Linked DNA regions of Homo sapiens: region 2 is linked to region 1. The links come from fine-mapping of genetic effects on gene expression. A gene starts in region 1. The other region holds a variant in brackets. All regions are shown on one strand. Distances are from middle to middle. Region 1 holds the start of RAB11FIP4 (RAB11 family interacting protein 4). Region 2 overlaps RAB11FIP4 (RAB11 family interacting protein 4).

Region 1 (11,543 bases):
GCTTCCAGGCACCTGTTCCCGCTCCTCCTATGGCTCTGACAGCACTTCCTTCACCTGCCTCTTAACTCTCGGCTCTTGACCCTGTGTCTGTTTTCCTAATCTTGGAATGATCCCATCATCCCTGAGAAGACATCTGGGCGCCCTGGCCAGGGGAGACAGCTGATGGGCAGAGCATCCCTGTGTGTGCATCACGAACACACTGTAGAGTCTGCAAAGTTCTGTGAGGGCAGAGCAGTAAGGGCAGCTGACTCAGGGAAGGCTTCTTGGAGGGGGTGGCATTTGAAGGATGGCAGTGGGGGTGGTGGAGGGAGGACAATCCAGGCAGAGGGAACAGCATATGCAAGGCAAGCCAGGCATTTCACTGATCAATTCCATGTTGAGTCACTGTCTTGGAGTCTATGCCACACAATGCCTGGGATATAGTAAGTGCTCAATAAATGTAAACTGAGTATAGTAGATGATGTTACTGCCCAGCCATGTTTTACAGAATGGAGAGCATCAGGCTGTAAAGGGCCTTCCTGCTTGCCGCTCACCCTGAGGATTGAGTTTTTCTTTTAGGCAGAAGTGGGCAGTAGAGAAGGCTCAAAGCCAGGGAATGTGAGTGGATTTGACTCACCAAGGACACTGCTTCCTAAGCCAGGAGGGAAATATTGGTGCCCTGCCTGGAAGTTAGTTTCAGGGGCCATTTCTGCAGCTGACAGAAGGATCTGGAGCCCAGTTGGGTAGAATAAGTTAGGTTTTGGCATTTCTTCTTAGAATCCCGGAAGGAATTTTAGCAATCAGCCGGTCCTGCTTCTAAGGGTCAGAGAAGATTCTGGATACCCCTCACATCAACAGCTCATGCAGCAGAGGAAAGATGAGGTCTCAAGGTGCCCCCCTGCACCCCAAGTGTGCCCTAGTCCAGCCAGGGTCCTCAGCACTCCACAGGCAGGGCTGGCTGTGTCTCCAAGCAGGGGCCTCTCTGCTTTTGCTCACAGAAACATATTCTGGGATCAGTGAAGAAGGAAAATAAGTTCACGGCACCTTCTTCCCCTTCAAAGTGATAATTATTCATGGGTTTAAAAAAACCCAGCAGGTTGTGAACAGGAAGTAACTGAATCCTGCCCCATTTCCAGACAACATGGACAATGAAGTCAAGGCTCACAGATGAAAATACAGAAATGTTCCCCCTTTTAGACTGGTTCTAAACTGCTCCATACTGACACACATAATCACCACCCAGGTGCCAGGTACTGTGCCAAGCGCTGGGCGAGGCATGACGCAATCTTTTTTAAATTAAAAGCCTGAAGGACCTCTACAAGGTAGAAAAACTGAAGCTTAGAGAAATTAACCTGACCAGAGTCATGGGGCTAAAAGAGCAACAGATGTTGGTGCCCAGCTCAGCTGTTTTGAATTCCAAAGCCTGGCTCTTCATAATCTTTGATAACTTCCACATGATATTCATCCCATCTGTATTCATTTCTCATGGCTGCTGTGCTAGCTCCCACAAACTTGGTGGCTTAAAACACCAGAAATTTATTCTGTAACAGTTCTGGAGGCCAGAAGGCCAAAATCCAGGCATCAGCAGGGCTGTGGGCCCTTCAGAGGCTCTGGGAGGGATTCTGCTCCTTGCCTCTTCTGATGGCTGCTGTTGCTCCTTGGCTTATGGCTGCACCACTCCAATCTCTGCCTCTGTGGTCACATTACCCTCTCTTTATGTGTCAAATCTGCCTCTGATCCATCCTATAGATATGTGTGATTGCATTAAGGGTCCACCTAGCTAACCCAGAATAACCCCCCTGTCTCCAGATCCTGTTGTTTTTTTTGTTGTTAGTTTTTTTTTTGTTTTTTTTTTTTTTGGAGGCAGGGTCTCACTCTTGTCACCCAGGCTGGACTGTAGTGGCATGATCTGGGCTCACGGCAACCTCCACCTCCTTGGCTCAAGCCATCCTCCTGCCTCAGCCTCCTGAGTAGTTGAGACTACAGATACATGCCACGATGCCCAACTAATTTTTGTATTTTTTAGTAGAGACAGGATTTCATCACATTGCCTAGGCTGGTCTCGAATTACTGGACTGAAGCAATCTGCCTGCCTCAGCCTCCCAAAGTGCTAGGATTACAGGCGTGAGCCACCACGCCCAGCCTCCAGATCCTTAATTACATCTGCAAAGACCCTTTTTCTAATGAGGTAACATTTACAGCAGGGGTCCCAACGCCCAGACTGCAGACCATTACCAGTTCATGGCCTGTTAGGAACCACAGCAGGAGGTGAGCGCCGGGTGAGTGGGCATTACCGCCTGAGCTCCACCTTCCGTCAGATCAGTGGCATTAGATTCTCATAGAAGCGGGAACCCTATTGTGAATGGCGCAGGAGGGGGATCTAGGTTGCGCACCCCTTATGAGAATCTGAAGCCTGATGATCTAAGTTGGAACAGTTTCATCCCAAGACCCTCTTCCCCCGACTTGTATGAAACCAGTCCCTGGTGCCAAAAAAGGTTGGGGACCACTGATGTACAGGGATTGGAATATAGATATCATTTAAGGGGGCATTTTTCAGCCTACCATGCCATATTTGTCCATTCCTTAATTTATTCCTACACAGACCCTAACTATGTGTGTATGGGCATTATTTAGGAGCTACAGAAATCAGGAGAGAAATAGACACAGTCCCTGCTCCCAGGGACCTCATGGTCACTCCTGTGACCTTTCATACAGTTTCCCAGATAATCCGGTGATAGACAATAGGAGTAAGATGGTAAGGATAGTCACAAGGACAATAGCTGTCACTAACCAGCAGCACTGTTCTGACACTTACAATGTATGTATTAACTTACTGACTCTCACCACAGCCTTATCCATACCTGTAAGTGGGCTGCAGTCTGTACTTTTCACTTCTCTGCAGGAGCACATGGGAGAGGTGGTCAAGGTGGGCAAGGAGTGGGGTGGTCATGAAAGGCTTCCGGTAGGAAGTGCCACTTCCACAACACAAGGACAGGAATTAGAGAAAGTGGAATTGGGTGGGGGTAGGATTGAGACCTCCCACCCACTAAGCAAAGGGAGGCAGGAGGGAGCCTGGATGCTCCCAGACTAGGGTTAAGGAGAGGCAGGAGAGTATGAAGACACTGCACAATGCCAGCTCAGGCAATGGTGGCCATTGAGTTTTCAGCAGGGGAGGGACCTGATCAAACTTGTTTCTTCCTAGAGAAGGGGCCGGAGTCCCAACTGTCCCTTCCATGTATATTTCCCAGTATATTTCCAGCCTGCCCAGGCTGCTGCAGCTGTTGGAAATCCCCTGGAGAATCAGAGGTCACCTGGAGGAAGCGGAGGACAGAAAGGAGGCTCCGCGCCTTCCCGCCCTATCCATGGGGACCTCTTGCTTTCCTGGAGCAACCCCCTTCACCCTGCAGCCGGCCCTGACATGGGTATTCTCTTGCTGCTTCTGCTCGGGGCTGCACTCTGAGCTCTTGGATCAGGGTTTTGGGAGCCCTAGTGGTCCCAGGTCCACTTCCAAGGACCCAAGGACTCCATAAATTGCACCATCTCTGAGGGACCTTTGGGTAGGCACTCAGCCATTTCTGCAGGCCCTCTTGGGCTCCTAGAGCCTGGCACCTCAGTGTAGATCACACTGGGCCATGACTGCCCCCATCAAGTTCAGCAAGTGGCTGCACCCCTTTCACTGTCTCCCTAGCATACCCAACACAACGTAGGTGCTCAACAAAAACGTGACAACCCCAGAAAGAATGCCTGTGACGTGCTTTGCTGGCCCCAGCAGCACAGCGGTGAGCAAGAGACCCAGTGCCACTGGTGGGGGAGGCAGGTGTCCTTCAAACCATCGCCCACCAGAGACAAAACTGCAGAGACCTGGGCAAGGAGAGTCCGGTCAGGGAAAGCTCTCCTGGGGGATTTTTGAATTTGTGATGATCCTGTCTTTGACAAGAACTGGCTAATCTGGTTGCGGGATTCTGTCTTGGTTCACTTGGGATTTGTTCATGCTCAGGTCTGAGGTCCCCGCCTCTGCCAGCTGAAGTGGGTGAGTCTTCCAGCTCCCCTGTCCCCAGTTAGGGGGCATTCAATGCCAGGCTGAGCGCGGAGAGCCATTTCTGCAGCCCCCACCAGGGGGCAGCCCCAGCTCCTGGCCATCTCCTTTCTGTGCTGAGCCCCTTGGGTGAGAGAAAATGGCACGAGCTGACCTTGGACGAACTAATATCGGGGTCCCAGGGGCAGGCAGCAGCCCCCAGCTTCCACTCCCTACCTCCTTGCCAGGGGGCTGGCTGGATCTCCAGCAGCCAGTCTCTCCCAGCCAGCTGCTTGTCCTTATTCTCCACTTCCACCTCCATTTTGCAGGGTAGGTCGGGGGAAAGCAGCATTGCTTAGATTCGCTCTCATCTTCAGTTGCCCTAAAAGGAAGGTACTATTATCCTCACGGTACAGGCGAGGAAACCGGCTAAAATATGCTAGTATCCTGCTGAGCGGCATCCAGCTAGCAGAGACGCTCCTACTCAGCCGAATACCCCTACTCCACTCCCACGGCCTCCCCTTTCCCGCTTTCTCACATTTCGGACTCCTCAATCCTCAGAACCACAGGTCTCTCTTCCCAAGAGGTGTTGCCTTTCGTGGCTCTCAGACGAACTGAAGGGTCAAAGGAGAGTAGCTAAAAGCCAGGTTCATCCCAGGAGCCGGGGCTGGAAAGAAGAGGTCCCCGCCCACTGTCAGAAGGCAAATGGCAGTCCCTGCGCAGGATATATTCAGGGTTGAGCAGGAAGACCACAGAGGTACAAACCGAGGCCCAGCTAGGGGAGGCCATGCAGTTCACCCCGTACTCCCTGTCTGCGCCACTACGTTGCTCCCGGCTCCTCACATAATGGGCGGGCCCATCCCCTCTGGGTGGGGCTTCCTCTGGGCCCACTCTTGCCTGGAGATCAGGGACTTGAAGGTAATTAAGACATATCTTGCCCTGGAGGGCTTCCCAGCATGGTAGGGGAAATGGGCATCCCACTAGAGAATTAAGAATTAACTGGGCACCTGGAAGAAGGGCTTAGAACTCAGAATAGAAGATAAGATGGCGTGCCATCAGAGAAGCCTTCCCGGAGGAGGAAACCTCTGTGCTGAGCATGACAGCATAGGTGGGAGTAGACTCAGCCAAGGCCTTTTTTTGGGTTGGGGCCAGTCGTTGCCACAAAGACCTGATGTGCCGAGCAAGAAGGTGGAGAGAAGAGCCCGGCCGGGTCCTGCAGGGCCCCGAGGCTGGGCTGGGAAGTTAGCACAAGCTGGGGTGGAGGCTCCGCTGAGCACTAATGGGAGGAGGCCAGGGTCCTGACCTAGAGCCTGCGGCCAGCGGGACAGAGATTCTGTCCTGGATTCTCTGAGCTTGGGGCATGCGGGCTGCCAGGGAGGTGTGATGGTGGGAACCCGGCGAAAGGGAGGAAGCCTCTTCCAGGCGTGGAGCAGCCTTGGGCCCTGAACAGGCAGGCCTCTGGAAGCGCCTCGCTTTTCCTCCCTCCGGCCTCATCCTGGTTTTCTCCTCATCTCCCCGTCGCAGGGTCCCGGGTCCAGGCTGGGGTTCAGTTGCCTGCTCCTCCTCTCTGTGCCCTCCCCCGCCCGATGGCCCCACAAGTGCTGTCTTGCAGGAGAGCGCCGGGAGACCGCAGGGCGGAGGTGAAGAACGGAGTCCAGAGCCCTCCAGAGATGGCAGCGAATCCCGGCCCTGCCTCTTGCCAGCTGTGTGGCCTAGAGTGAGTCCGACCTCTCTGGGCCTCAGCTTCCTCCGGGATGAATGCAGTCACGGAACGCGCCAATGCAGGAGGCCCCCAGGACATCCTGAGCGCTCGGGAGACGCCAGGCGCGGCAGCGGGCACGGATAGCGGAAAGGGGCGCGACCCCGCGGAATCCTCCGGCAGGGCAGGGCCTTTGGGTGGCTCCGGGTGTCCAGAGGAAGGGGTGGGCTCGGGGACGCGGAGGGAAACTGGGGACGCGGAGGGAAACTGAGGTCGCGGAGGACGCGGCCGTTGGCAGCTCGCTGCGCCTGCCGGCCCCGCGTGGGCCGCCCCACTCGGGAGGACGCGGGCTCCTTTTGTCTGCAGCGTCCCCGCCGCCGCCGCCCCCGCCGCCTCCCCCTCTCCCTCCCATTTTCGCCGCGGCCCCCGCCCCTCCCCTCCCCGCCCCCTATTGCCCCTCCTCCTTCCCCTCCCCACTCTTCTCCTTCCCTCCCCTCCCCTCCCTTCCCCTCCGGAGCGGCTGGGGCTGCGGCGCCGCTGCTGACACGGATCGGCCGCGGCCGCCACCGGGCGGAGGCTGCGCGGCGCAGACCCAGACGGGCGGCCCCGGAGGGCGCGCGGCGATGGCGGCGGCGGGCAGGCGGCGGGCGCGGCGGGCGAGGGGTCCGGGCTGAGCTGCGGGCCGGCCCGGATGGCGGGCGGCGCGGGCTGGTCGGGCGCCCCCGCGGCTCTGCTGCGCTCCGTGCGCCGCCTGCGCGAGGTGTTCGAGGTGTGCGGCCGCGACCCCGACGGCTTCCTGCGCGTGGAGCGCGTCGCGGCGCTCGGACTGCGCTTCGGCCAGGGCGAGGAGGTAAGCTGGCCCGACCCCAGTCCCGGCCCGGGGACCCCAGCCCAGCCCCGCCGCCCCTCCCCCAGCTCCCCCGCCGGGTCACCCGCGTGGCCCGAGGCGGTGGCCTCCCTCCCAATCCCCTCCCTCCGCCGGAGCCCAGGACCTCGGCCCCCCCCGGGTATCCCTGGCCCAGCCGGGCCCTCGCTTTCCGCCCCCCGGCGCCCGTGCCCCGAGCGTCACGCGTCACGCCTAGGGTGGCTTCTGCGCCCACCTTCCTTCCTCGGCCATGCAGGTCCTTCTGAGCGGTCTGCACATCCACCCTTGTCTGGGGGAGAGAGCTGCCAGAATCCGGCCCTAGGCTCCCCACCCCACCCGGCGCTGCGGAGACCAAGATGCAAGGGTCTGTGTACGTCCTGCTGGGCCGGGCCAGGGGGTGAAAGGGACCGGTAGGGGTGCTCTGCAGCCTTGGCTCCTCGGCTGCACACACCCTGCCCAGACACGGAAGGAGGTGTCTGCTGGGGCCACCGTGTACTCCCGGGCCAGTGTCGGGTGACCTCTCATTCAGGCTCTGCTGGGCAGCCAGGCTGGCAGCTGGCTGTGTTGGTTGCAGCAGGCCAGGCAAAGCCAGGCTCGGGGAGTGGTGGCTGAGCAGAGGGCTTTCATGTGGCGGGGCCGCATCTATTTGGGGAAAGCAGGACTTACGTAGATTGTTAACAGGGCTGGAAGCGGAGGGTCGGTGCCGCCAGTAGGGTGGACGGAGTCATATCACTAAACGCACACTACACCAGTGTCCTCTGGTGCCACCGGCATGGGGACTGGGGACTGTGTCTCAAGGGGAGGACAAGACACCCACCTGGCTGAAATGGTCAGGGGTTTCCCCTGGAGCCAAAAGCCCTGAGAAGTGGGTTTCCAAGGCCATCTAAGGCCTCAGGCCCTGCATGGGGGGCCTGGGGCCATGGGCCTCAAATGGGCACTGGCTGGCATTGTGTTCCCAGAACAGGTCGGACCAGGCATTTCAGAACATGGGAGAAGCTGGGTGATGGCCAGGTTGGGCCCGTGCCTCTGCGTCACCAGAGAGTGGGAGGCGATTGAGAATCATCTCTCCACCCGCACCTGGGCATGGGCCGGGACTTGTGAGTCGCTGAGAGCTGTGGGCAGAAGAGAGTGAGGCAGCTTCAGGGCTTGAGAACTCAGGTACCCACCACAGGAAAGACCACTGCAGTGCCTGTGAGAGCCCAGACTGCCCTCTGCGGGGCTTTGCTGAGGGACACTGCCTGCTGCCACCATGACCCTTCTTCCCCAAAGGCCAGCCAAGCCCTTCCGTTTTTCCAGTGGCTCCCATCTGGGGCAGGCTGAGCAGACTCCTGGCATGGGGATAGTCGCGCTCCTTCCTCTCAGAACACAGACTGCAGGTCGGGTAAAGAAGCTACCAGCTCTGGCTGAAACCTGGAGTCCCCGAACTCAGAGCCTCAGTAGTGGGAAGGGCCTCCCAACAACCTCTGGCAGGGGCCACCGGCCTCAGCCACGTGCCCAGCAAGCCTCACCCACTTCTCCCCCAGCTGGACAGTTCCTGCCATTAGAACCTTCTCCCTCATACACTCTAGAGACAGACCTGCTTGTCACTTAGTCATCACCGTTCTGCACGGGGACTCACATAGGTCTCTCTTCTTTGGGGGAGCCTTTAAATATTTGAAAATAGCACTCCTGCCCCTTCTCTCCTTCCCAGCTCCATACTCCCATTTTCCCTTCTCCAGGCCAAATACCCCAGTTCCTGAAGCCCTAGGCCATTTCCATGTGACCCAGTAGCCAGACCTCTGGCTTCTGGCCTTGGAGCTGCCATCGACTAATTCTGTGATTCAGTTTTCCTAGCAATAACATGAAAGGGCTGGACAAGCAGACCGCCCCCCGCCGCCCCCACCAGGACTATATTAGCCCCAAGACCTCACACATATGCACACAGCTTAGGGTGGGGCTGCCTCTGAATGGGGCACTGCACTCTGCTTATATTAAGTTTCTGGCCACCGAAACCTCCAGGGATCTGTTTTAGAAACCTCTGCCAAGCCAGGGATTCTCCACCCTTCGGGGAGGGTCAGTGATTTTTTTCTTTTAAAAGCATACTCTGAGATTACTACAGAAGCGGTGGATATGCATTGCAGAAAACTGGAAATAGGGACAAGCAAAATAAAAAGTATTGTGTCCTATCTCTCAGGCAGCGCCTCAATGACACTTCTGTCAGACCTTTCCAGAGCTGTTTCCATGCTTATATGTCAATTTTCTCCAGAAAATGAGATCATACTGTGCATACTGTTTTGTAACCTGATTTTTTTTGCCGGTAAATGATCATGACTTTTCTGCTTCAATAAATTTTCATCTGGTTTAATATGCAGACCTTTTTCAGATTTCCCTATTTGACCCCAAAATGTCCATTTTTGCTGTTTCCTCTCCAGGACTGTGCAGTGTATGTGGTTGTTGTCACCTTTTAGTCTCTCTTACTGTACACAATTCCTTTTTCTTTTCTTTTCTTTTCTTTTTTCTTTTAACAATCCTGGCTTGTGGAAGCATTCGGGCCTGTTGTCTGTCAGTAATTTCTGGAATCTAAGCCTGTTTCTTGGCCCTTATTCCCATTTAATTTCGTCTTGTTCATTTCATCACATTGTATCTGTCAAGAAAGAGAATCTAGCATCCTACCTCTATCACTCTCAGCTGTGCTGCTGCCTGCGGGCTGGAGAAGCAGTGCTTGGTGTGTCTGAATCCACAAGGCTGGTTAAACATTGCAGGGCAGGACCATGGACAGGGCCCCGAGGCACTTGTAGGGGTGGTTTTCGGCTTATGCTGTATTGACCGAGACCCGTGGAAATATATTTTGCATCTCTACTCACTACCCATCTTATCCCCTGATGCATTAAAAAATCGGAGTGTTGTTTTCCAGCGGTGGGGTGGCGGGGGGCGGGGGGGGGGGGCTCCCTTACGAAATGCAGTGTACTCTGACTGTTTCTATTTTATTTGTTTTAAAATCAGGCAGTGACATTGATTTCCCAGCCACTTGTGCTCTGGGATGGATAATGATCATTCATTAGATATGTAGTTCAGTGAACTTAGAGCTGATTGTCCACAGTTTACCACCTACCCCCAGAATACCAGGGATACCAGGATCAAATGCTTTGCAAAAACCAAAATATACTAGGTCATAAAGTATGAAATAAATATCCATGAGGCCATAATGAAATATATATATGTATAAATTATTGAACAGATGATAATAAATAAATAGGAAAATCTCTCGTATAGAAGAAATCTGAATAACGTATGTTGATAATTGCCCCATTGAGGAAGTGAAGCATAACGTCCCACCGTGTAAGCATGAGATGTGCGTAGTGGCTTCCTTATAAAGGGTAGAGTTTGGAAAGTGGGGGGAACAGCAACTGTATAGTGGAGAAACCCAACAAACACTGTCTCAGAAGGTGATCAAGGACAACATCGATAGTGACAGATTGTGATGATGGCATACACCCTTGGTGTGATGTGGTGAGAATAGAACTTTTCCTCTGTGGTCTTCCTCCCAAACCAGTAATCCCAGTCTAGTCCTGAGAAAAATGCCAGACAAATCCCATCCGAGAGGCATTCTACAAAATGCCTGATTAGGACCTCTCAAAATTGTCAAGGTCATCCAAAACAAGGAAATTTTGAGACACTGTCAGAGCCAAGTGGAGACTAAGGAGGCAGCTGACTAAATGCAGTGTGGTGTCCTGGATGGGACCCTAGAATCAAGAAGAGGACATTAGGTAAAAACTAAGGAAGTCAGGATCAAGTATGAATGTTACTTAATAATGTTATTTATGGATTAGGTTAGTCCCTGATAGTTCCCTACTTTGTTGACCTAGGTATCACAGCAGAAAAGAGGAGACAATGGGCCGGGCGTGGTGGCTCATGCCGGTAATCCTAACACTTTGGGAGGCTGAGGTGGGAGGATCACTGGAGCTCAGGAGTTCCACACCAGCCTGGGTAACATGGTGAGACCCCCCATCTCTACAAAAAATACAAAAATTAGCCCGGTGTAGTGGCGTGCACCTGTAATCCCAGCTAGTTGGGAGACTGAGGCAGGAGAATCGCTTCAACCTGGGAGGCGGAGGTTGCAGTGAGCTGAGATTACATCGCTGCACTCTAGCCTGGGTGACAGAGTGAGACCCTGCCACAAAAAAAAAAAAAAGAAAAGAAAAGAAAAGAAAAGAAAGAAATGCAGATTTTTGAGGGATGGGGGCACACCACTGCCCTGATCCTGAAAGTCTACAATGCCAGGGAGCAGGACTCTGATAAGTATGTAACATGATGGCTCAACATCCTGACCCTGTGTTGCCTTCTGATATATTGCATTGTCTCCCTAACCTCTTTAGGCCTCTATTTACTCATCCATCAAATGGGGCTGATCAGAGTCCCCATTCTATAGGGTTATTGTGGGGTTTGAGTGAGTTAATACATACAAAGGGCTTAGTCCAGTATCTGCACAGAGTAGGCATAATATCAGAATTGCTGGTGCTCTCCTTGTCATTATTATTATTTTCTAAACACTTGCAAGCATTTTTGAGAGGCTGTTCTAGGCTGGAGATTTGCTAGGAATTGAGGTCAAGATCTGGCACCGGCCTCTGTGTGCTCAACTCACCCTCCTTAACCAGCTGTGGTGTTCCTGCCCCTCTTACGTCCCCTCGGCAGTCAGAATGGTAGACATTGAAAGCAGCCAGAGATGTCCTGGACCACACTTCCCTGTGACATGGTCCTCTTCCCTTTCCAGTTTGAAGACCGTCCTTCTTGCTAGAAAAATAGAAATAAGAATCACCAAGTAGGCCTCTCCCATGCATTAACACAGCACCATCTCCTCTGGACAGTGGGCCTGTCCTGCCTGCTTGGAAATGAAATGATGGTCCCCACTGGGCTCCCTGAGTCCTCAGGTCCCCTCTGAGCTAATGCCTGCTATGGGGGAATTGCTAGTGCCACTTGGGTTAAGCCTGGGTCTTTGAAATGGCAAA
Region 2 (11,543 bases), 100 kb after region 1:
ACTCAAAGGGGTCGGAGGCAGTACTAATTGTGTGCCACTAGACCTCTGCAATGGGAGCGCTCTCACTCCCCCCCATATCCTCCCCCCACCAACTAGCCTTGCGTTGGTGGAGTGCCTGAGTCGCTGCCTTTGACTGGGGTCTCCCCCAGGTGCTGGCACCCTGGCACTGGCCCAAACCTTACCCTGCTTTCTGGCTTTCGGGGACTGTTGATTATGTTCCCAGGGAACATTACACACGGGACACTTCCCTGCCTTCAAGGTGTTTGCAAGCTCAGGCAGTCTGAATACTGGGTCTGCTCTGGGCCTGCCCAGCTCTTCTAAGTTGATTGCAAGTTGCCTGCAGTTGTCTTTGAGGTCCCTGTCACTTCACAGGGGAGAGTGTCGCCTGGCGGGGTGAGGGAAGCCGCTAGGGTTCTTCACTGCAGAAGGCAGCACCCCTTGGGCAAATGCGTAGTGGAGAACAGCTTCGGAATTTGAAGGGGGGGCCTGGACTTAGGCGAAGGGGGTGGAGTAAATGACTAAGGCCAGTAGAAGAGATAAGACTGGGCCGGAGGCGAGGGGCGGGACTAGCCAGGCCAGGTGAGCCAGCTGGAAGGCATGACCTTTGCCCTAAGGGAGGTCTGTAGGAGAGACTGCCTGGAGCCTGCCCTCGGAAGGGACTTTTAGGCAAGTGGGGGAGGAAAAGCAGAAGAAATTAGAGGGCCCATTGGGTTCTAAGCCACCTCCTTTGGGGTTCCAGGGGCAGCCTGCACTCGGAAGGCTCTGGGCTGCAGCTTGAGATACTCCACCGGCCCTCACTCTCCCTCCCGACCATCTGTGCCACTTCTAAAGCATGCTAGTGCCTTCCTAGCCCCTTCCCCTCCTGGTAGGCAGGCTGCTTCAGACCCAAGGTTTTCTCTTTGGCCGTTCACCTGGGGCCCTTGCAACTCCCTCCTTCATCTGTACCCGTAGGTATCTGGCAGTCCCCGATCTGGGCAGCCCGTTATGCTGAGGTTTTTCACAACTGATTCTGTTCTGAGGAGACTTCGCAATTTCACTTTATATGTTTTAGGTATGGGTAAGGAGGGGGTGAAGGGGGTAGGAGAGGCTCCCAATGAAATAGCAGGTGAGCAGTTCCCAGAAGGCAGGCATCTCCGAATGAGAAAGGGCATGCTGTTTCCTGGCACAGGGCTCATTGTGTTTGAAAAGGAAGCATCTTTTTTTTTTTTAATTGAGTTGAGACAGGGTCTTGCTCTATGGCCCAAGCTGGAGTCAAGTGGTGTGATCAGGGCTCACTGCAGCCTCCCACCCTCCCAGGCTCAAGCAATCTTCCCACCTCAGTCTCAGCTGGGACTACAGGTGTGTGCCACCCTGCATCTGGCTAATTTTTGTTTTTGTTTTTGTAGAGATGGGGTTTTGCCATGTTGTCCAGGCTGGTCTTAAACTCCTGGGCTCAAGGGTTCTGCCTGCCTCACCTTCCCAAAGCGCTGGGACTACAGGCATGAGCCACCACACCCAGCTGAAGCATCTTTATCTGTTCGTGCCTGCTGTCTGGTGTTAGCAGTGGGGCACAGTGCCCTGGCCTTGCCAGGCATACAGAACCCCTGGGGCTGGACTCTGTCTTCCTCTGGGTCAGCTCTGCTGGCTCTTGACTCAGGAACTGGGCACCTATGGCTTCAAACACTGGCCTCGAAGATCAATGCCCAGTTACTTCATCTCAGGTCTCATGGCTGGATTATTGGGTGGTCCCATCCATACCAATTAGGCACCACAAGACAGGCCTGCCTATTTGGCAGTCCCACCTGGTGCCTTACTGGATGTCGTACGATCTTTGCCCCTGAATGGTACCACAGTCTCCCTCACCAGGAGGCGTTTCAGGACACGGAGGCTTCCCCATTTCTGTTTGCTCAGCCCCCAGCACATTTCCCAGTACAGGGCAAGTGGTACTGAATTCATTCACCAGATTCTTCGTTGCCTACTTTGTGCCAGATTCTGTGCTGGGCACTGGAGATACAGCAGTGAACAAAACAGACGAGAACCCCTGCCTTCAAGGAGCTCGCAGGATGGTAGTGAGGCAGGTAGAGCAGTAAAACACGGAGTATGGGAGTTGGCAGGAGGAAGAGCAGGGAAGGGGAGGGAGTGCTGGGTTTCAGAGTCAGACAGGGAAGTCCTCACTGAGAAGGTGACATCCAAACGAAAGAGGTTCAGGCAGAGAAAAGAGGAACTGCAAGGGCCCTGAGGTGGGACGGTGGCTGGCATGCTATGTCTGTCCACAGAACTACAAGACAGGATGTGATTGGAGAGCAAGCCAGGGCTGGGGGGACAGGGGACAAGCTCAGAGAGATGGGGGACCACCCAATGCTGTGACAACCCAGAATCCCAGGAGGAGGAGGAGAGGGGACTGACAGTACAAGTGAGACTAGAAATCCACAGGCACGAGCTGCCTTCCATTGCTCTGCCCTTCTCAGAGCCTCCGCGTCGAGGGGATTTGGGCATTGAGGCATTTCTGGAGGACAGGCTTCTGTGGCCACTGCTGCCACAGACTTCCCTGCCCTCAGCTTGAGTTGGGTCAGACGAGCCTGTCCATGTGAACGTGGAAACATTTCCTGCCAGACTATGCTGTTGCCACCACACGAATCAAACCAGCAAAGGGCACGCCGGCGATGTGCATACAGCTGTGTCTCTGACAGCTGCCTGGGCCTGCCTGCTGTTCCCACGGGTCAGCTCCTGTCGGGTAGGGACAGGTCCTGCTCTCAAGGCTCATAAAGCAGCCAGCAGCCTGCCCGTGTTTTCCGTACTCTGGCCTGTGTCACCCAGGCTGTCTCCTCATCTCTTGTCTGATCCTCAAGGGTTCCCTGGCCTCCCTCTTCACTCCCTCTGCCTGTGGCAGGCAGCAGCACAGTTCTATGGGGTCCTAAGGACCCCAGGGAGTCACTCCCACATTTGAGCAGCAACTTTGGGTTTAGTCTGTCCAGGTTAGGGCCCCAGATCATATATATGTGTGTACACACACGTGTGTTTGCGTGTCATGCGGCATTCGGATGGGGCATCCTGTTCATCCACCCCCCTGCTATGGGGTGGCTGAAGGTTGGGGTGCCCTCTGAGTTTTTGGTGGGTGGGGCTTCAGCAGGGTGTCTTGGCTACCTCTCCTGGCCAGCACATGTTATCCTGGGAGGATTTGTAGCTTTGGGCCTGACCACGGTTCCAAGCACCATGATCTGGAGCCCACACTGGGTGGCAGGCTGCAGAGAAGGTGCCCCCAGAAGCCTGGACTGCACCCTTATCTGTTTTCATTTGGAGCTATTTTCTCATTATCTCATGCCAAGTGTCTGACTACACATGGCAGTCCTTCCCCAAGTGTTTGCAGCTTCATCATAATACTGTTAATTGAATGGAATTTGTCATTGGCCAGCTTCTGTGGACCCCATTCAAGGCTGAGTGGATGCTGGGGGCGCCCAGCTGGCCTTGCTCAGAGGGGTCCCGAGCGTCTTGGTGCTTCAGGAGCTGAGCCCCCCTCAAGAGCATTGATGACAAGAGCTCAGATTCTCAGAACCCCCCTGAGCACCCAGACAACCTTGGTGGTTACTTCTTCACTTTTTCGCATGACCTGGAAAGGAGATGAGACGGGGAGGAGAACATAGGCAACCAGAAGGACGTGCAGCCTACAAGGGTCGTATGAAGGTCAGAGGGGTGGCTGTGATGGCCCAGAGCTGTGGGGTCTGAGTGACCTCCAGCCCAGAACCGCCCAGCAGGCCAGTGCTAGTCATGCCAGCACTTCCAAACCCACTTCTTGACTGACCTTAAGAAATGGGAAGTTTTCCAACTGTTGGTCACATTTTTAATTGATCTAACCTGCTTCATCTTCCCAGACAAGTGGGTTCTTTCCCAACAATGTAAACATTAATTCAGATGAAAACAAAGCTCTGTAGAAGTTATTAATATCTGTGGCTCTGCTCATGGGAGCCTTTCTCTTTTGAGGTACCAGAAAGAGGAAGGCCTAAACAGAACTGGAGTGTGGGAGAGTGGGCGGGCTCTCTCTCTTTAGTCATCTGTGGTCACCCCCCACCCCCCTGCGCTGTGCAAGCCTGATACCATGGAAAGGGAACCCACATTTCAAATAGCTGCTGCTGCTCCGGTGAACTTGGGGTAAGGGAGCTGAGGGGTGTCTACCCTCTGCACCAGACTCAAGTCTCCCTCCTAGAATAGGAGCGAGAATAGCAGCAAGTCCCTGCCCCCTGCTCCCTCGTTTTCCTGGAAGAAATGCCTACCTAAGACACAGACACCTGCATCCCACGCTTTGTCACCCAATGCCTGTTTCCTTAAGGAGAAAAAATGGGCGCCAGAAAACTTCTAGGTCTAGATCCTGGCTCTGTTGCTCGCTAGTTGTGGAACTTTGGACAGGCGACCTCACCCTTCTGATTTCACTTTCCCTGGCCTCACTCTTCACTCCCTCTGCCTGTGGGCAGGCAGCAGCATGGTTCTGTGGGGTCCTAAGGACCCCAGGGAGTCACTCCCACATTTGGGCAGCAGCTTTGGGTTTAGTCTGTCCAGTTTAGGGCCCCAGATCGTATATGTGTGTGTGCACACACGTGTGTGTTTGCGTGTCAGGCAGCATTCAGATGGGGCATCCTGTTCATCCACCCCCCTGCTTTGGGGTGGCTGAGGGTTGGGGTGCCCAACAGGTAGAATGGGGTTGATAATAGCACCTGCCTCGCAGGGTGATGGTGAAAATAAAATGAGCCATGGTGATTTAAGATGCCCAGTCTAGGTTCTGGCCTTTACTTAGTTGACACTCGTGGACGGTTAGATGGTTAGAGAGGCAGGCCAGTTTAGTACCAAAATGCCTTCAGAGTCAGGCTGTCTCTGGGTTCAGATCCTGGCTCTGCCCCTTGCTATTGGTGGAATCTTAGACAAGTTATTTAATTTCTCTGTGCCTCAGCTTCCCCACCTGTAAAACGAGGATGAGGCTAGTACCTCCCTCACAGGGTTCGTGGTAAGAGGATGAGGCTAGTACCTCCCTCACAGGGTTCGTGGTAAGGCTCAAATATGTAAATGTATGAAAAGCACTTAAAACTGTGCTTTGGGGTGAGCTGTTATTCTTAGTTCCTGCAGGCTTCAGCTGGTTTGATTGTTGTGACTAATAACCTTCGCACCTAACAGAATGTCTTGCCGGGGAGTGTCATGGCCCAAACAGGAAGGTGGCAGCGGAAAAACTCCATTACTCAAGGGCCTTTGCAAGAGAAGCAAAACTCTACTTCCTCAGCTTCTGTGGGTTTTTAAATCTTTTTTTTCAATTTTAATTTTAATTTTTTTAAAAAAAAAGTAGAAATGAGGTGTTACTATGTTACCCAGGCTGATCTCGAATTCCTGCCCTCAGGTGATCCTCCCACCGCGGCCCCCCAAAGTGCTGGGATTACAGGCATGAGCCTCTGCACCCAGCCAGCTTCTGTGTTTTTAACAAACCTTGCTCGGGCTCTGCAGATACAGATTCTGGGTCTGGGGTGAAGTGACTAGCATTTGTGTGGCAGTC[T/C]GTGAATGAGATGTCAAGCAGCTTCCGAGGTAACAGACTTCTCCCCAGGTTCAGTGAGGGAGACTGTACCTAGCCTGTCCTTCCAGAGGCTGCTCACACTGCCAGGCTGTGGCTGGCCTGCCAAGGGGAGGATGGCCCTCCACACCTCGGCCCACCTGCCCTTCACCTCCAGCCAGGGCCTGCCTGTCCATCCACCTGTGCCTAGCTGGAAAAGCTGGCTTGGAGCAGTGCTGCCCATCTGCCACTGCCAGCCCCCAGCATCTGCCTTATTAAAATGCTGAGGCTCTGGCTGGCCACAAGCCCCAGGAGATTTGGAGAAAAGCCAGACAAAAAGGTGCAGGCTGTGCCACCGCCCAGCCACACTGGGTGACTGCCCTTGGTAGTTAACCACAGAGTCATCCAGCTTGGCTGCCCAGAGGTCTATAGCTCCACTCAGGCGAAGCTGGCTAGCCTGGCCTAGCCTGGCTGGTTAGGTGGGCAGGACAGCCTCCACTTGACTGATTTTTTTTTTTTTTTTTTTTTTTTTTGAGACAGGGTTTCGCATTTCTGCCCAGGCTAGAGTGCAGCGATACAATCTTGGCTCACTGTAGCCTCGACCTCCTGGGCTCAAGTGATCCTCCCACCTCAGCTGCCTGAGTAGCTGGGTGCACCACCACTCCCGGCTATTTATTCATTTGGTAGAGATGAGGTCTCACTATGTCACCCATGCTGGTCTCAAACTTCTAGGCGCAAGCAATCCTTCCACCTTGGCCTCCCAAAGTGCTGGAATTACAGGCATGAGCCACCATGCTTGACTCGTCTGACTGATGTTAGGCAACCTTGAATTGATGGTCTCCTGGTGAAATGAGGGTTCTTGTTGACAAGGCAGGTCTGGCCAACACATTTTTGTATGATTATCTGCACGATTGCATCAGTTATTAGCAAAGAAGGATTTTATAGCAGCAGGTGTGTGCTCATGTGCTTGTGTGGAGTTGTTGACTGCCCTTCACTGCACACACACAGTCTGCGGAACTGTGACTGAATCCCTGTTCCCTACTCACACTTACATGGTATTTTCTGGGATTCTAAGGCACATTCTTTTTTTCCTTTCCTTTTTTTCCATTTAACATCTTAAATTGGAATGTGTCGCACATTTGCGGATTATTATAATTTGACAGCGCCTTTTTCTTGGCATACTTGAAATAACGGTGCATTGTAAAATCAGAGGTGTCTCAGATTTAATGAAATAGAAACTAGGTAACCTCTGGGGAACTTATATAATTTGTCCAGTTCCTCCAAGGATGCAGGTGGAGCCACCTTGTAGTGGTGGCAGATTATATGAGGGGACCCTGATGTGGTTCAAGGGGACAACCTTGGATTGGGCTTAGATTCCAGCTTTATGGCTCGCCAGCTGTGTGGCCTTGGCAAAGTAGAGCGACCTCTCTGAGCCTCGGGATTTTCCTCCCACCACATATGAATCGTGGCTCCACAGTTGTCATGGCTGTGTGCAAGGCAACATTCCCTGTTTCTCTTGCTGGGTATCATCTAAGGTCTGCCCCGTTCCATCTGGGTTAAGAGGGAAAATGAGGGCTGGGAGTGGGTCACTGGCCTTCCCAAGGGAGCAGAGGGAAACTGGTGTTCCAAGGGCTTCTTGACTCAGTTTATAATCCTTGGACATTACTCTTCTTCCCTCGTCCTTCTCCCCCTTTGCCTGAGTTTTCATTTTCACATGTGTTTCCTTTTAGCAATTTTCTTTCAAATCTCTCCTCTCCCTTTCTGTAAAGTCTTCCCACATGTAGCCTCTTTGAAGCTCCCTGGGGTGGGAAAGGGGAGGAGGGCTCTGCCTGATGGCCTGGATGGCACAGACCTCAGAAGCCCAGTGTGCTGTGGTCCCTGCAAGCTTCAGCTCAAGTCCAAGTTCTGGTACCATCAGCGTTGCTAACTGCCATTCCTGTGGCTGCAGGGTCAGCCTGAGTCCACTCCAGTGCACAGTGTTGTCCATGGGGTGCTGGATGTCGCATCGCTGAGAGCATTTGGTATTCTCTGTACCCTCCTTGCTGCGTTAAAATCAGACCTGGTTCAAATCCCAGCCCTGCGACCTTTCACGAATTACTTAACCTCCTTGAACCTGTGTATTCTCATCTAAATAGTGGCTGATGCACAGAAATACCTGGCACACAATAGGTGCTTAGCAGATGCGTGCTTTCCTTGTTCTCAAATGTTTAAGACCCCTTTGTGGACAGGCACGATGGTTCATGCCTGTAATCCCAGCACTTTGGGAGGCCAACGCGGGCGGATCACCTGAGGTCAAGAGTTCGAGACCAGCCTGACCAACATGGTGAAACCCCATCTCTACTGAAAATACAAAAATCAGCCCGGCGTGGTGGCAGGCGCCTGTAATCCCAGCTACCTAGGAGGCTGAGGCAGGAGAATCGCTGGAACCCGGAAGGCAGAGCCTGCAGTGAGCCGAGATCATGCCACTGCACTCCAGCCTGGGCGACAGAGCGATACTCCATCTCAAAAACAAAACAAAAAAAAAACTGCTTTGTGCTTGTTTAGGTGTTAAGGATCTCGGGGAGTGCCAGCCAGTGGCACTGCTCCTGAGACAGACGGAGGAGTTCTGGGCAGGGGGCAGTGGCAAAGGCACAGGGGCCTGTGTGAGCAGGATGTGTCAGGGGCCCCGTCCTTCAGGATGGCTGGGCTGCAGTGGGGTGAGGCAGGACGGAGAGAGAGGAGGAAGAGTGGTGGGGTGGGCACCCAGTCGGCACCTACAGGGGTGCACATGACAAGGCTGCACAGGGTCTGGCTGGAGCAGTACAGAGGGTTAGGTGTGGGCTGTTCATGGAAGTCGGGGCTGAGTTGGGGAGGCACCAGGAGACAGCCACATGGGGATGTCTGGGTGACAGTGGCCCCCAAGCAGGGGCTGAGTGTGCGCTGCTGGCTAGAGGGAGGCTTTAAGAGCAGGTGATGGTTTTAAACCTTGTTTTCCTTGGAGATCTTCTCTCTGCCCCCTCCCTCTTGAGATTCCAATGAAAGCCAGTAGCCCAACCTCCTCAGTTTTGTGTGTAGTGTCAGAGATTCGAAGCCCCCTCTTTGATGAGGTGGTGCTTATGCCCCCTGTGCATAAGAAGCAGCATGTGCTGAGGCATTGGGGTGGGTAAAGGTGCCCAGGAGCCTGGGGTACTAGGGAAGGGGAGAGGCAGAGCATGTCCTGAGGCTGAGACCTGCTGGAAGGGGCTTTGCGAGCTGCTCTCAGGAGCTGGGCCTGGTTCTGTGGGCAGTGGGGAGCTCACAAGCTCTTAGAGGGGGTTCCCAATGGACTCCCTGGGAGGGAGAGTCTCCACCCCATGAGCCCCTAATGCCCTCTCACCTGTCCCCACTGCGAGAAAGCCTGCCCTGGCCGGAGGCCCTAAGCTGAGCTCTGGCCAGCTATGCTTGAGTGACACCCCCCAACCCCCCATGCAAGACAGCAGCTTCTGGAACACGAAGCTTGGGTAGCTGGGTCTAGCAAAGGCCACAGGACAAAGAGAGACACCTGAACTGAGCTTGCTGGGAAGACCATGGGGGCTATGTGCTGATGGGAGGTACCAGAAGATGGGGCAGGGAGGAGGAGAGGGTTATAAAAACCAAGGGCTCTGGCAGGAGGCCCTGCAGGGTTGGGAGGAGGAGAGTCACCCTGCTGACCCTGACCTGCCTGCTCCAGAAGGGCGGGTCACGTGGAGCCTTGGCCATTGGCTGTGGGTAAACATCGGTGCTCTGCTGGCTGTTCAAGGCCTGAGGGTTCTGTGGCAGAGGAGGAGCTGGGTGGGAACCCACCCTGGCTTTGGACCGTGGGTCAGCTCCATCCAGGCATGCTCTCCTTGAGTTGGATAGTGGCCTCTCTCTGGAAAGTTCCATGTCACCTCTTTGGAGGGTGCTCCCCTGAAAATGTAGCCTGACCTACCCGGTGGACTCTACGAGAAGAAAGAGCTGGCCTGAGCCACTGTTTTCCCTCCCAAACCTTCACTTTGAGTGAAGTGTTTTTATCATCGCTCCTCTTATCATGATGGTAAAGTATGGAGCCCCCAAAGCAAGCCCCACAGACTCTTGGTTGTGTGAGTAATTAAGCCCTCTCTTCAAAAAGCCACATCTTGAAAAGCTATAATTTGTAGCAAAAAATAGCTGCCCGTTCCAAGAACCAGGAGAGCCCTTTATACGCACCCCATTCAACTGCAGCACGTTACTTCGCTTTTGAGTTGAGTTGCTGGGACCTCTGGTCCATGCTTTTCTTGGGGGAACCAGAGATGCAGTGGCTGCATGGGAACTGGAGCTTCCGGTAGGCATTTGGGAAATCTTTTCTGAGAATTTAGATGGGACGATTTAAATTAGGGAACTCCTGATTTGGGTTTGCATGGCCCCAACTTTTTGTGTGACTCCAAAGGGGAGTAAAGAGAAAAACTGCAGGATACTTCAGGGGAAAGTGGATGAGACTCTCTGGACACCATTCCCCCACTTTTTCTTTTCCTTCTTCCTTTCTTTCTTCTTTTTTTTTAGATAGAGTTTCACTCTGTCGCCAGGCTGGAGTACAGTGGCACAGTCTCAGCTCACTGCAACCTCCTACTCCCTGGTTCAAGCGATTCTCCTGCCTCCGCCTCCCGAGTAGCTGGGATTACAGGCACGTGCCACCGTGTCCAGCTAATTTTTGTATTTTTTAGTAGAGATGGGGTTTCACCATGTTGACCAGGATGGTCTCAATCTCCTGACCTCGTGATCCGCCCGTCTCGGCCTCCCAAAGTGCTGGGATTACAGGCATGAGCCACCGCACCTGGCCACATTTCCCCATCTATAAGGAGGAAAATGATAATTACTTGCAGGGAGTTTACCACCTCTGTAAAGCACAGAGCAGACTGGCCACATGGTAGGCGCCCTAGTATGTCAACTTTGTTCTCTTTCTCTGAGTTGTGGCTCCACTAGCTATTTGTAGACAGGAGATCTTTGTGGCTTCAGGTAGGTGATGGGGGACTGAAAGCTAAGAGGAAAAGCCTCCCCTGACCTGCAGCTTCTCTTTGAGCTGGCATGCCTGGAATTCTTGGGGCTGGCTGCTGGGTTTGTTTTCCAGATGTGGAAGCAATTTAAGTTCTGTTTTCTTAATCCCCAACAGTTTGCCTCCGAAGTCCACATTCTCATTTGAAAATCAAGGCCGTTGGCTCTGTTTGCAGGGCAGAGGGTAGGCTAGATAGCCTCTTCAAACCCTTTTTGTTTAGGAAATGGGCTTACTGGGGCACTCAGATCTGGGACCCAGGGCATTCTTGGGACAGTCACACCCCATCCAGGACTTGGTTAAAAGGTGAGTTCACTTTCTCTGTGGGTTTTCCTTGGAGATGATTCACTGAGCTAAATTCAGCTGCACCTTGGTTACAAACCAGCTCTAGACCGCTGTGGAGTGGCGGGGGTGGGGCTCGGGTTTGGGCCATGTCACAGGCCAGCTGGCGTCCCTCTGAGCAGGGTGCCCACGTGTCCCGGGGGCAGTAGCGGCCCTCCTTCCCACACTGACCACAACAGAGGGAGGAAAATGCTCCAGATGTCAGGTAGCCAGAAATACTGTCTGGCACGGAGAAACTGGTAATATCTTGTTCAGTTACTGAGCGCTGCTGGTCACAGAGGCAGCCTGACCCAGGATAAAAGGCTCCTTGTGTGAGGGCCTGTGGCTCCAGGGCTAACTGCTGATTTATTCTCTTGTAAAGCAATCGCTGTGTAGGTAAAATACCTTTTACATTTGTCTTATAACTATACTAAATACAGTTTTGGGCAAACAAAAATTGCCTTTGCAATTCTAACGTCTCTGAACTGTGCATATGCTTCTCTGAAATTGAAATAGAATACTTATACTACTGAGAGAATGCACAAGAAAATGGAAGTGGCTGGGCATGGTGGCTCATGCCTGTAATCCCAGCACTTTGGGAGGCTGAGGCGGGCAGATCACGAGGTCAAGAGATCGAGACCATCCTGGCCAACATGGTGAAACCCCGTCTCTACTAAAAATACAAAAATTAGCTGGGTGTGATGGCACGCGCCT

Evidence for each region. PIP is the estimated chance that this variant, and not a neighbour inherited with it, causes the effect.
Region 2: its variant is fine-mapped to the expression of RAB11FIP4 in whole blood (TOPMed, PIP 0.97).

The regions. Positions count from the first base shown.
Region 1 is chr17:31,385,469-31,397,011 of GRCh38, forward strand. RAB11FIP4 (RAB11 family interacting protein 4) reads left to right here and starts at 6,207. Exons shown (of 15, transcript NM_032932.6): 1 at 6,207-6,543. The coding sequence starts at 6,385. RefSeq lists an enhancer at 5,422-6,011.
Region 2 is chr17:31,489,357-31,500,899 of GRCh38, forward strand. The region is part of intron 3 of RAB11FIP4 (RAB11 family interacting protein 4); the gene reads left to right. Among named protein-coding and RNA genes, the nearest start is that of MIR4724, 40 kb to the right of the region's middle. RefSeq lists enhancers at 9,557-10,518, 10,519-11,478. The variant T/C (reference allele first, on the strand shown) is at 5,510.